2 separate regions of the Homo sapiens genome follow, and region 2 is linked to region 1. The links come from fine-mapping of genetic effects on gene expression. A gene starts in region 1. The other region holds a variant in brackets. All regions are shown on one strand. Distances are between the middles of the regions. Region 1 holds the start of C11orf91 (chromosome 11 open reading frame 91). Region 2 overlaps CD59 (CD59 molecule (CD59 blood group)).

What was found. PIP is the estimated chance that this variant, and not a neighbour inherited with it, causes the effect.
Region 2: its variant is the best candidate, but not a certain one, in a credible set for the expression of C11orf91 in breast (GTEx, PIP 0.76).

The regions. Positions count from the first base shown.
Region 1 is chr11:33,697,714-33,703,085 of GRCh38, reverse strand. C11orf91 (chromosome 11 open reading frame 91) reads left to right here and starts at 2,260. Exons shown (of 2, transcript NM_001166692.2): 1 at 2,260-2,841; 2 at 4,572-4,825. The coding sequence starts at 2,346. The coding sequence ends at 4,657. CD59 (CD59 molecule (CD59 blood group)) reads left to right here. Exons shown (of 4, transcript NM_000611.6): 4 at 1-76. RefSeq lists silencers at 2,085-2,324, 2,505-2,594.
Region 2 is chr11:33,719,074-33,724,445 of GRCh38, reverse strand. CD59 (CD59 molecule (CD59 blood group)) reads left to right here. Exons shown (of 4, transcript NM_000611.6): 2 at 1,983-2,067. The coding sequence starts at 2,001. Among named protein-coding and RNA genes, the nearest start is that of CD59, 15 kb to the left of the region's middle. RefSeq lists an enhancer at 361-450. The variant T/A (reference allele first, on the strand shown) is at 2,563.

The DNA of each region.
Region 1 (5,372 bases):
CAACTAGATATATACATAAAAAATGATTGTATTGCTTCATTTAAAAAATATAACGCAAAATCTCTTTTCCTTCTAAGGGCCTTTAATATGTAATAACAAGAGCTAATGTTGAACACAAGCCATTGCCAGGTACTTAAACTGTCTCACTTAGTCTTGCCAACCTAAGCAAGTAGATGCCATTACTATTCCCATTATATTGATGAAAAAATGAGGTTGAGAAAGGTTCAGCCGCACAGCCAAATACATAGTGGATCCAGGGTTTGGTCCCAAGTCTTGAGTCCAAAACCCTGGTTCTTACCATTACTGTGGTTCTGTAGGGGTGAAAAAATTTTTCTTCTAATCTCTTAGGTTCAGAGCCTGGGGCCTGAGAATTAAACTGACAAAGACAGATTAACAGAAGACAAAGTTTATTACGCAGGTACATGGGGTTCTTACAGAAACAAAGTGAAAACCCAAAGAAGTGGCTTGAGAGCTTATATACAATTTTAACAATGGGCGATTGTAGAAAAGTGATAAGACAAAGGAAAAGAGGTTTGAGCTTCTTGGGCAGTAAATTATGGGAAGTTAAATATGTGGGGGAAACTAATGGAAGATAAGGGTATTTTTTATTTTATTTTATTTTATTTATTTTGAGACAGGGTCCTGCCTTGTCACCCAGGCTGGAGTGCAGTGCTATGATTGTGGCTCACTGCAGCCTCAACCTCAGCCTCCTTGGTTCAAGAAATCCTCCCACTTCAGCTCCTGAGTGGCTCCAGGCAAATGCCACCACACCTGGTTAATTTTTTAAATTATTTTATAGAGACAGAATCTCGCTATGTTGCCCCTGGCTGTTCTCAAACTCTTGGCCTCAAGAGATCCCACCTCAGACTCCCAGAGTGCTGGGATTACAGGCTGGGTGCTGAGCTATCGCACATGGCCTGTATTAGCCATAGACTGAGGGGAAATACATTTTCTTGAGAGCCTCAGCCTAGTGATCACTTGTATGAATAAACAATGATGGGTGGCTGCCAAAGTCAGAGAGCAAATACTGCGTGTGACAACTAAGTGTGGGAAGCTCAGTGTGGGAAGAAAAAGCTTCCCAGTTTCAGACATGCCCCTTAGTAGGGACAGCTGCCTCTTGTGTTTGGACAAAGTGTCCAAGTTCAAGTGTTTCACACACACACTGTTCCGTCTTCTGTTTGATCACAACCCTATGAGGCAGCCTGGTTTTCTTATTTCTATTTTATGGAAAACCTACTTAAAAGTCAAGCAACTTGTCCAAGGCTACCCAGCTTGAATATCTGACTCTCTCCACTTTGCTGCTACACACACACACACACACACACACACACTTTGCACTGTGTGTGCAGATACATATGCATATATATATTTAACTTGTGAAGCTGATACTGACTCTTTAACTGCCCTCCACCCATCACTAGTCATACCAGTGATCATTAGGCAGAGGCTCTCAAGAAAATGTATTAGTTATTTCCCCTCAGTCTATGGCTAATACAGGTTACTCACATAAATGAGCTGTCATGTCCTTTGGACAAAATGTCCAAATCGCTCATAAGCAATGGGTGAAGTATTTGAGGTAGGGCGGACAGGATTTCCTTTTGGTGGTTAGCTCGTTGCCTGTTAGCTCCTGGTGATATCTGTGTTTGGAAGAGAACTAAACTGCATTTCACTGAAAACACTCCTTCAGGTCTATTACAAACCAGATGAGGATCCCCTTTTCTAGAATCTTCCTCAACACTGCTAACGTTTGGCAGATACATAGGTTGGCTCTAACAGCCATTCCCAATCAATCCTCTTCTCCTTTGTCTGCCTCCCACAGTAGTGGATGAAAAATCAGACACTGATTTTCTCAGACTTCTTTGCTGTGGGCGCGGCCAGTGAGGCAATGAGGTAAGTCTGCTGGTGCAGGGGCCAGGTTTCTAGGAAATACTTTTCTCCCTCATGGGAGAAAGAGAGGAAGCCTGAAGTAAGCTTTCTTCTGCAGCCCTGGCCCGCTGCCTGTTCTGGATGAGGGTATGCTGGGATATGACAACGGAAGCCAGCGGGGTCGCAGAGCAAGAGCGAGGCGGTGGGCGGAGTCGAGGGACGGGAGGCGAGGCGAGGCGAGCCAGGGGGCGTGGCTTTCTAACTGCGGGGTGCGGCCAGCCGAGGTGGGCGGGGCCGCGTTCCGGGACGTGGTCGTCCGGGCTTTGGAACCCCGCCTGTTAGGGGCCGGGCTGAGGCGAAAGGGTGGGGCCGCGCTCCATCGGGGCGGGGCTTGTGGAACCTCGAAACCCCGGCGACTCGGGGCCTGAGCGCGCGTCTCCCGGCGCGGGGTTCCTCCCACGCAGACCCTCATTCAAACGATGCCAAAGGGGCGGCGCGGCAGCCACAGCCCCACCATGAGCCAGCGGTCGGCTCCGCCCCTCTATTTCCCGTCCCTGTACGACCGCGGCATCTCCTCGTCCCCGCTCAGCGACTTCAACATCTGGAAGAAGCTCTTCGTGCCGCTGAAGGCGGGCGGGGCGCCAGTGGGCGGGGCGGCGGGGGCCCGGTCCCTGTCCCAGGCGCTCCCCGCCCCGGCGCCCCCGCCCCCGCCACCACCCGGCCTGGGTCCCTCCAGCGAGCGCCCCTGGCCCTCGCCCTGGCCCTCCGGCCTGGCCTCCATCCCCTACGAGCCTCTGCGCTTCTTCTACTCACCGCCGCCGGGGCCTGAGGTGGTTGCCTCGCCCCTGGTCCCCTGCCCCTCGACCCCCAGGCTCGCCTCTGCCTCCCACCCGGAGGAGCTCTGCGAGCTGGAGATCCGGATTAAGGAGCTGGAGTTGCTCACCATCACTGGGGACGGCTTCGACTCCCAGAGCTGTGCGTGACCTCGCCAGGGCCACCGAGCCCAGCCTTAGCCTGCCCTAGCTCCCTCCTTGGCTCCGTGCCCCGACCCGAAATGTAGCCTGGTTTGACTCCAGCCCCCAGTAGTCCCAGATCCAAAATCTATCCCCTAGCACCCAGACTCCCTTATCCTGGACTTAACCGACTCCTCCCCCCACCACAGATCTGAACTTCATGAGCCTCTTAGTCCCAAACTCCATCCTCCCTCCGTCCTAAACCCTTTGGGTCATCTGGACTCTGAGCCTCCACACCTGGAACTCCATCCGCCACCACCCCGTCCTGAACTTTAATCCTCCTGCACAGTCATCCTCCTACCCTGTACTCTGGAGCTCCACCCACCACAGACAGTCCCTAAGCTTTAATGTTCGGTCCTAAACCGGGGCTCTCCATGGGGGGAAGGTGAAGTAAGGTGACTGTCAGTTGTCTGTAGGGGGAGGTGGGAGTTGTGCAAGAACCACAAGGCCCAAGGCCGTTTCCAGGGCAGCTTTGGGACACTCCACTTCTCAATGCTGGGGGGCAGCCCCCCTGGGACTCTGTGGCCTTGGCGCCGGTAGTTCTCTCACCAGGATCCTGGGCTGATATCTGGTCTTACGTCTGAAGTCTTAGGGCTCTGGACCACGTGTGCTGATGCGGGCAGGATCCCTCAGCCTACGAGCTGAATGACTCCTCCCTGTTGGAGGGTAAAGTTGTTAAATGCCTTGTACTCCAAGAAGGACCTATTGCAAAGTAGAACTTTCAGTAGCGGTAGGTTGTCCTGCAGACTTTGTCTTTCCCATCACTTGTTTTGGCTAAGGCTTGTCCTTGACCACTGGAGAAGGGCAGATAGTTCTAAAAAGATCATTCCAACTATCGTATATAACGGCTTAAGTTGGCTTCCCCTGCCACACAGAGAAGGGAAGTATGAAATAACCTAAATGCTTAGGTCCGTGTGGCCATGGAAATGGTCTTCAGTTCATCAGACACACTGTAATGCACCCTTTCTCATAGCCATGGAAGGAAGACAGTCCCTAGAAAAACTGGGCTTTGCTAAGTCCTGGATTTCTTAACTATGAATACATACATAATACTATGTATTCATAGTTAAGAAATCTTAACCGAATACATAGTTAAGAAATCCAGGGGCCGGGTGTGGTGGCTGGCACTTGTAATCTCAGCACTTTGGGGGGGCCAATGCGGGTGGATCATTTGAGGTCAGGAGCCTGACCAACAAGAGGATCATTGAGGACCAGCCTGACCAACATGGTAAAACCCTGTCTCTACTAAAATACAAAAATGAGCCGGGCTTGGTGGCACACATTTGTAATCTCATCTACTCGGGAGGATGAGGCAGGAGAATCGCTTGAACCCAGGAGGCCGAGGTTGCAGTAAGCCAAGATTGTGCCACTGCACTCCAACCTGGGTGAAAGAGTGAGACTCCCTCTCAAAAAAAAAAAAAAAAAAAAAAAATTAGAAGAAGAAGAAATCCAGGACTTAGCAACTCTGACTGTAAAAACACATGTAACTGGATGTGTTGCATGTACAGTCAGAACCAGTTACATGTTTTTACAGTCAGAGTTTTCAGTTTTTTGTTTTTTTCTCTCCCATCTTGGATCACAAATGGAGTTTTAGGGTCGAGGAAGCACAGTTGCTTCCCAAGAGTTTGCTTTGGAAGTGTTAGGAAAAGCCCTTATCTCTATTACGGCTAAGTTTGTTTTGCTCTCCTGCAGACACATTCCTGAAGGCGCTAAAAGACGAAAAGTTACAAGGACTGAAGACCAAGCAACCTGGAAAGAAGTCGGCCTCTCTCTCCTGAGGAGCTGCCTACCAGAGCTTGGGCAGCCACCTCCTTAGGTGTTAGTGCTTAGATAATGTGTCCCATTTGTTGTCATTTCAAAGATGGTTATTTTCTGTTCTGTATTTACCGCTGTTCTTGTTGCTACCAGCATGTACTTCACATACAGTGCCCACTTTGTGTGGTAAATCTCATGGTCTCTCTCCTCTCTATGTGCTGCTGAGGGAGCTCTCTCATGGTGTCTAGAAGCTGCTGTCCAGCCAGCATTCAAGGTCTCCCGAGACCAGGGAGGGAACCCCCAACACTACCACAGTCATGCAAACCAGAACAACAGATTATCAGGAAGGAATCGGGAGAAACCAAGGGCAATGTATATATTGGTTCTACTGCTGTGTCTCTGCTCAGAAAGGTTCTTTGAGGACTGGAATAGTGGAGGTTTGGTGTGTGGTTTGTTTTTTTTCCCAAACATATTTACTCCTTGGAAGTGGTTGGTGTTTTCATTTTTTTTAAAATGTTTTTTGGACCACAAACTCTCTGATAATCTTATCAAAGCCCTGGACCTTCCTAGAAATTCATATATTCAAGAAATATTTATTGAGTGCTTATTTTGTGCCTAGGCACTTGGGATTGGGGGTGGGGGAGAGACAGACAATAAATATTATAAATAAGTAAATCATAATATGGTATCATAGAAGATGACATGCTAAGGGGGAAAAAAAAGCAGAGTAAGGATTGC
Region 2 (5,372 bases), 21 kb before region 1:
AGAGGTGACAGAGCCAGAACTATCTGGCCTTGTTCAGAGGCCTCCAGATTGGACTGGAATGCCTGTGCTCTGAACCCTTTCATTGTGTTCTTCCTGCTTTCTTAGCAGGCCACTTCTTTCTAAGGTACTTCAAAGAACAGCTCCCCATCAGGGGCCCTGTGTGTTGTGGCAGTGTGATTTATGTCAAGGACCATTCCAAGGGAAGTGTCCTGAACCGGCAGCTCCTGCCAGCCTGACACCTTTCCAGTGCCTAACCCGAGTCAGGAGATTCCTTCCTTCCTCCTTCCGTGGGGATGCCTGACATTGTAGCTACATTGGGTTTTTGTTTGTTTGTTTGGAGAGAGGACCTTGCTGTGTCACCCAGGCTGGAGTGCAGTGGCACAGTCACAGCTCACTGTAGCCTTTACCTCCTGGGCTCAAGCGATCCTCCCACCTCAGCCTCCCAAGTAGCTGGGACTACAGTTATGTGCCACCACACCAGTCTAATTTTTTTTTAATGTTTTTATTTTTGTAGAGACAGGGTCTCACTATAATACCCAGGCTCCGATCATGCTATGCTTAACTTTTAGGAAGTGTCTGGAGCTCTCTGTTCGGGGACCTCAGACCAATACCTTCCTCTCCCTGCTCACTTGTAGCAGTTCCTTGTATACTGGAGCCCTGTCTAACCTGAGTCTATAAATCACCCTTCCTACTCAGAAACCCCTGAAAATGGGGAACCAAGCAAGCCGCTGGCATGTGCTGGAGCCCAGGTCTCCTGGGAAGGTCCACATGGGGGATGGTGTCCCGTAGCAGGCTGTAGGTTTCAGAGCCCAGCGGGTGGTGGGGAGCCCTCAATTTGTAAGGAAAGGCCAGATGACAATTGTCTTTCTTCCTGGTTCCTCACATATCATAAAACCACCTCTTTCTCATCTCCACCACCCCCATCTCCAGGCTTGACTCACTGATTGTTTTCTTTTTTGGACAATGTCAGACCCTGCCCTTTTCCTGGAACTTCTCAGTCCTCCACTGGCCTGCGTCAGCAAATTCCTAAGTAGCAGATGACCTTCAAGATGTGTGAGAAGGAAGGGACAGGAATGATTGTCAGGATTGTCAGTTCCCCAGGGAACTCTGCATTTCTGACTTAGGGAGGGTAGATGACTCACCCTTCCAAGAACCCATCTGTCTGTCCGGGCCTGTGGGGCTCTGGAGAATAGAATATGGAGTACCCTGGTTTACAGGCACTGCCACCTCCTTATTTCAGGATGGGTTCAGGGATGTAGGATTGGAGTTGGGAGATTTCTTAGTTCTGCTATGGATGCTTTGTACTTAGGCAAGTTCAAAACCTCCCTAAGCTTTGGCTTCTTTACTGGGTAAAGTAGGGTTGGAGGCATTTCAGGCTTTCCTTCTTCTCACCTGATGCTATCACTACACATCTAGGCATTCACGTAATGGAAACTTACAAAGTTGCTCAATACCTCTCTTCATGTCCCCAAAGAGAGCAAGCAAGTGTCCCCATTATACTTCTTACAGTGAGGAGCCAGAGCTTCCAGGTATGCTAAGCCATTGCTCCCTGTTCCACTGCTGAATGCATGCTGGTGCCTTCCAGAGTCACCCCTTTGGTCTGATTCACTTAGTGCTGTGGCTCCGAGAAGTGGCCCTCTCTTTCAGCCAGCAGCTTGGGGTGGGGCCAGTAGAGTGGGAACCACAGTGGCTATATGAGTCAATTTGCTCATATTGTCATTTGACTCACTGACCCTGATGGGGAAGATAGTGTTATTCCCACAGTGTGGTAGTACACACTGGGGCTTATAGGGACTGAGCCTACTCAAGGGTATATGGTGCTGTGGGTCAGAGCTGGGGCATGGCCCAGGGATTCAGTGTGCCTTGACTCCCCCTGTAAATGTTCCTCTCAGAAGCCTTCTTGGCCTTCCAGCCCTTGGTTTTTGAGACAACCAGCAGTCATTTGTTCGTTCCTGACATTCCTTCCTGTCCCTTCCTTCCAGGTTCTGTGGACAATCACAATGGGAATCCAAGGAGGGTCTGTCCTGTTCGGGCTGCTGCTCGTCCTGGCTGTCTTCTGCCATTCAGGTGAGTGCTCCAGTCTCAGGACATGGATCTAGGCTGCCTTGGCCATGAACTCCCTTCTTAAGCCTCAGTTTCAGCCCCAGCTGCTCCTCCAGGCCTGGCTTTGGTTCTTTTGCCTTCCAGTGTTACAGGTCTGGGGTTGTATGACAGCTCCTTCCTATGTTATGACCTTGTCCTCAGTGGGGCATCGTCCTGAGTTACAGCCCGTCCTGAGTTACAGCGTGGCTTTTGGCAGGGGTGGGTCAACAATCGGCGGCTGAAGTTTCACTCCTGTCACCATAAGCTGCTTGGGGACACCAATGGATACCATTCTTAGAGTGCTGTGCAAGTCCCTTTGGGGTCCACTCTGCTTAGAGCCATCTGAGCTCAGTCCTTCTGCTCTGAGGCTCCTCCTGTGTTTTAATGATGATGATGGTCATAGTGACAGCAGCAGCAGCTAACTAACCCTGAAGCATTTATGTGCCAGTCACTACTCTAAGCATTTTACGTGTATTTGCT[T/A]ATTTAATCCTCATGCCAACCTGATGGAGTTGGTGGTATTTTTATCCTTGTTTTACAAGCAACAAGATTGAGGCCTCCCCAAAATTAATAACTTGTCAAATAACACACAGAAGTGGTACACGGGAATGTGAACACACAGTCTGGCAACAGAGTCCCTGCTCTTCCCTCCTGCTCCAGGCCATCTGTCACTGGGCCACCCCCTCTCCTCAGCCACCCCTCCCCTGGTTGCTGGAGGAAATTGTGTGCTTCTGAGTCAACTTCTATAACAGTGGAAACACACATGCTTCATTGTAAAGATCAAGTGTGGTTGTCTGCCTGTGTCATGTTGGTATAATATCTTGGCCACTGCTGGTTTTTTGTTTTTTATAAATATGGTTGGTGGGGGGAGCAGAAAAGAAAGTGGCAATACAGTGAGCAATTTAAAAAAAGATTTCCACACCACTGTAGCATGTCTTAGAATATTAACAGCAACCATATATTCACTGTTTATTGTTTACTGGGGACTGTGCCAGAGCCTGTCTCATTTAAATCCGTCCAGCCATTCCGGGAGGTCGGTACTGTTACCTCCCATATTACAGCTGAGGAAATGAAGGCAAAGTAGTAACTTGGCGCCAGGACACACTTTAATATGTTCTCCCTTTCTGAGCAGAAAGAGAAGTCATGGCACCCCTTCTTCCCCACCTTCCGTGATTCTAGCCAGGGTGCACTGTAATGTGGTTCACCTGTGTTAAAACACTATATTTTTTCTATAATTATTTTTTATTTATTCATTTTTCTTGGTTCCTTCTTTTTTTCTGTCTCTGCTGCTTAAGTTGGAATATTTTCTAGAATTTTAATAGCCCAGTGACATCCTACTTCCAGCAGTCTGCATTTGTTTATGGAGCAAGCTTGGGACCATCAGCTTCTCTGTGACAAGTCTTGGGGTGCACTTCAGCCCTTTCTCAGAGAATTGAGATGTGAAGCTCACATGCCCACAGATGAGAGGCCTTCTTTGCTGCTGCCCAAAAGGGTCTCAGGACCCTGCAGGGGAACTTTCCTCTGAGCTCTGCCTCTTATGGCCCAGGGGAAACCTCGTCTACCCTGGCTTAGTGGCTAAAATATCAAACCATTGTCCACTGACCTATTGCTTGTTTTTTTTTGTTTGTTTTTTTCAGGGGGATGGAGTCTCACTCTGTCGCCCAGGCTGGAGCGCAGTGGCGCGATCTCGGCTCACTGCAACCTCCGTGTCCCAGGTTCCAGCGATTCTCCTGCCTCAGTCTTCTGAGTAGCTGGGATTACAGGAGCATGCCACTATGCCTGGCTAATTTTTGTATTTTTTTTTATTTACTTTTTAATTTTTGTATTTTTAGTAGAGGCGGGCTTTCACCATGTTGGCCAGGCTGGTCTGGAATTCCTGACCTCAAATGATCCACCTACCTCAGCCTGCCAAAGTGTTGGGATTACAGGCGTGAGCCATTGCACCTGGCCCTGTTGCTTGTTTTTGACCTCAGTTTCCACCATAATCTAGAGTTTCCTTCTCTTCCCACTCAGGTCAATTAGAAGAACATCATGGTTAACCAAGCTTGGATTTTAGAACTGACAGCCTGAGTTTGAGCTCAGCTCGGTCACTTAGTAGCTGTGTGGCTTTGAACAATTTAGTTAACATCTTAGTCTTAGTTTTCTCTTGCAAGGTGGGGATGAAGATAATTGAGCCTAGTTCTCTTAACAATCCTATGAAGAGCTTAGCACATAGATGCACATATATTTGAACACTGAATGAACATGTTTGCCATGAATATTTTTGCCCACAGACGTTCCAACCATGGGTTTTAGCCTTTCCTTCTAAAGCTTTCTTAAGAGGCCAAATGAGCCCGGGATCTAGCCACCACAAAAATCCATGTCTACAGGTAACCTTTTAAAATGGCCCTCAAACATGGCCAGTCTCAAGAACAACACCCTTCATCTTAGACTCTTTTCATTTCATGCGTGTGAATACATGTCTGGCACAAGGAAGGGACCAAAGAAAAATTGCATCTTTGCGCCTTCTCCTTGTGGCTTCCCTCTCACACGGGCATGACAGCCACAGGCTGACAGTGGGGGAGAACAAACAAAGCCTGGTGGATGGGGCCCTGCCCACAGGCCCCAGGGCTGCCGCCAGCTCTGCTGCTTTGTAGCCAGGTGTCCTTGTGTGAGTCACATCACCTCTCCAGACATCTGTCTTGTCATCTGCAAAAAAGTTGGGGAGGAGGTTGGTTTTTATTTTATTTTATTTTATTTATTTTTTAGACATGGTCTCGCTCTGTCTCCCAGGCTGGAGTGCAGTGGTGCAAGCTTGGCTCACTGCACCCTCCACCTCCCAAGCTCAAATGATTCTCATGCCTTAGCCTCCTGAATAGCTGGGATTACAGGCATGTACCACCATGCCCGGCTAATCTTTGTATATTTTGTAGAGGCGAGGTTTCACCATGTTGGCCAGGGTGGTCTCAAACTCCTGGCTACAAGTGATCCACCCACCTCGGCCTCCCAAAGTGCTGGGATTGTAGGTGTGAGCCGCCACACCTGGCCTAGTTTGTTGTTGTTTTTTAAAACTAATATTTCAAGGCATTAATCTGTAACCTTCACAAGTCAGAGGATCCTCTATTGGGTAGGATTTCACACCTGTGAGGGCAGACATGGCCATTTCAGATGCTCTAGAGAACTGGGTTCCTGTGTGTGCTCAGAAAGTGAGGACCCACCTTGCTTCCACTGGACTTTCCACTGAAAAATCTATTTCCATGGTGATAAACCTAGCCTTCAGCCTTAGAACTAGAAGTCAGCTGTTGGGCTCTAAA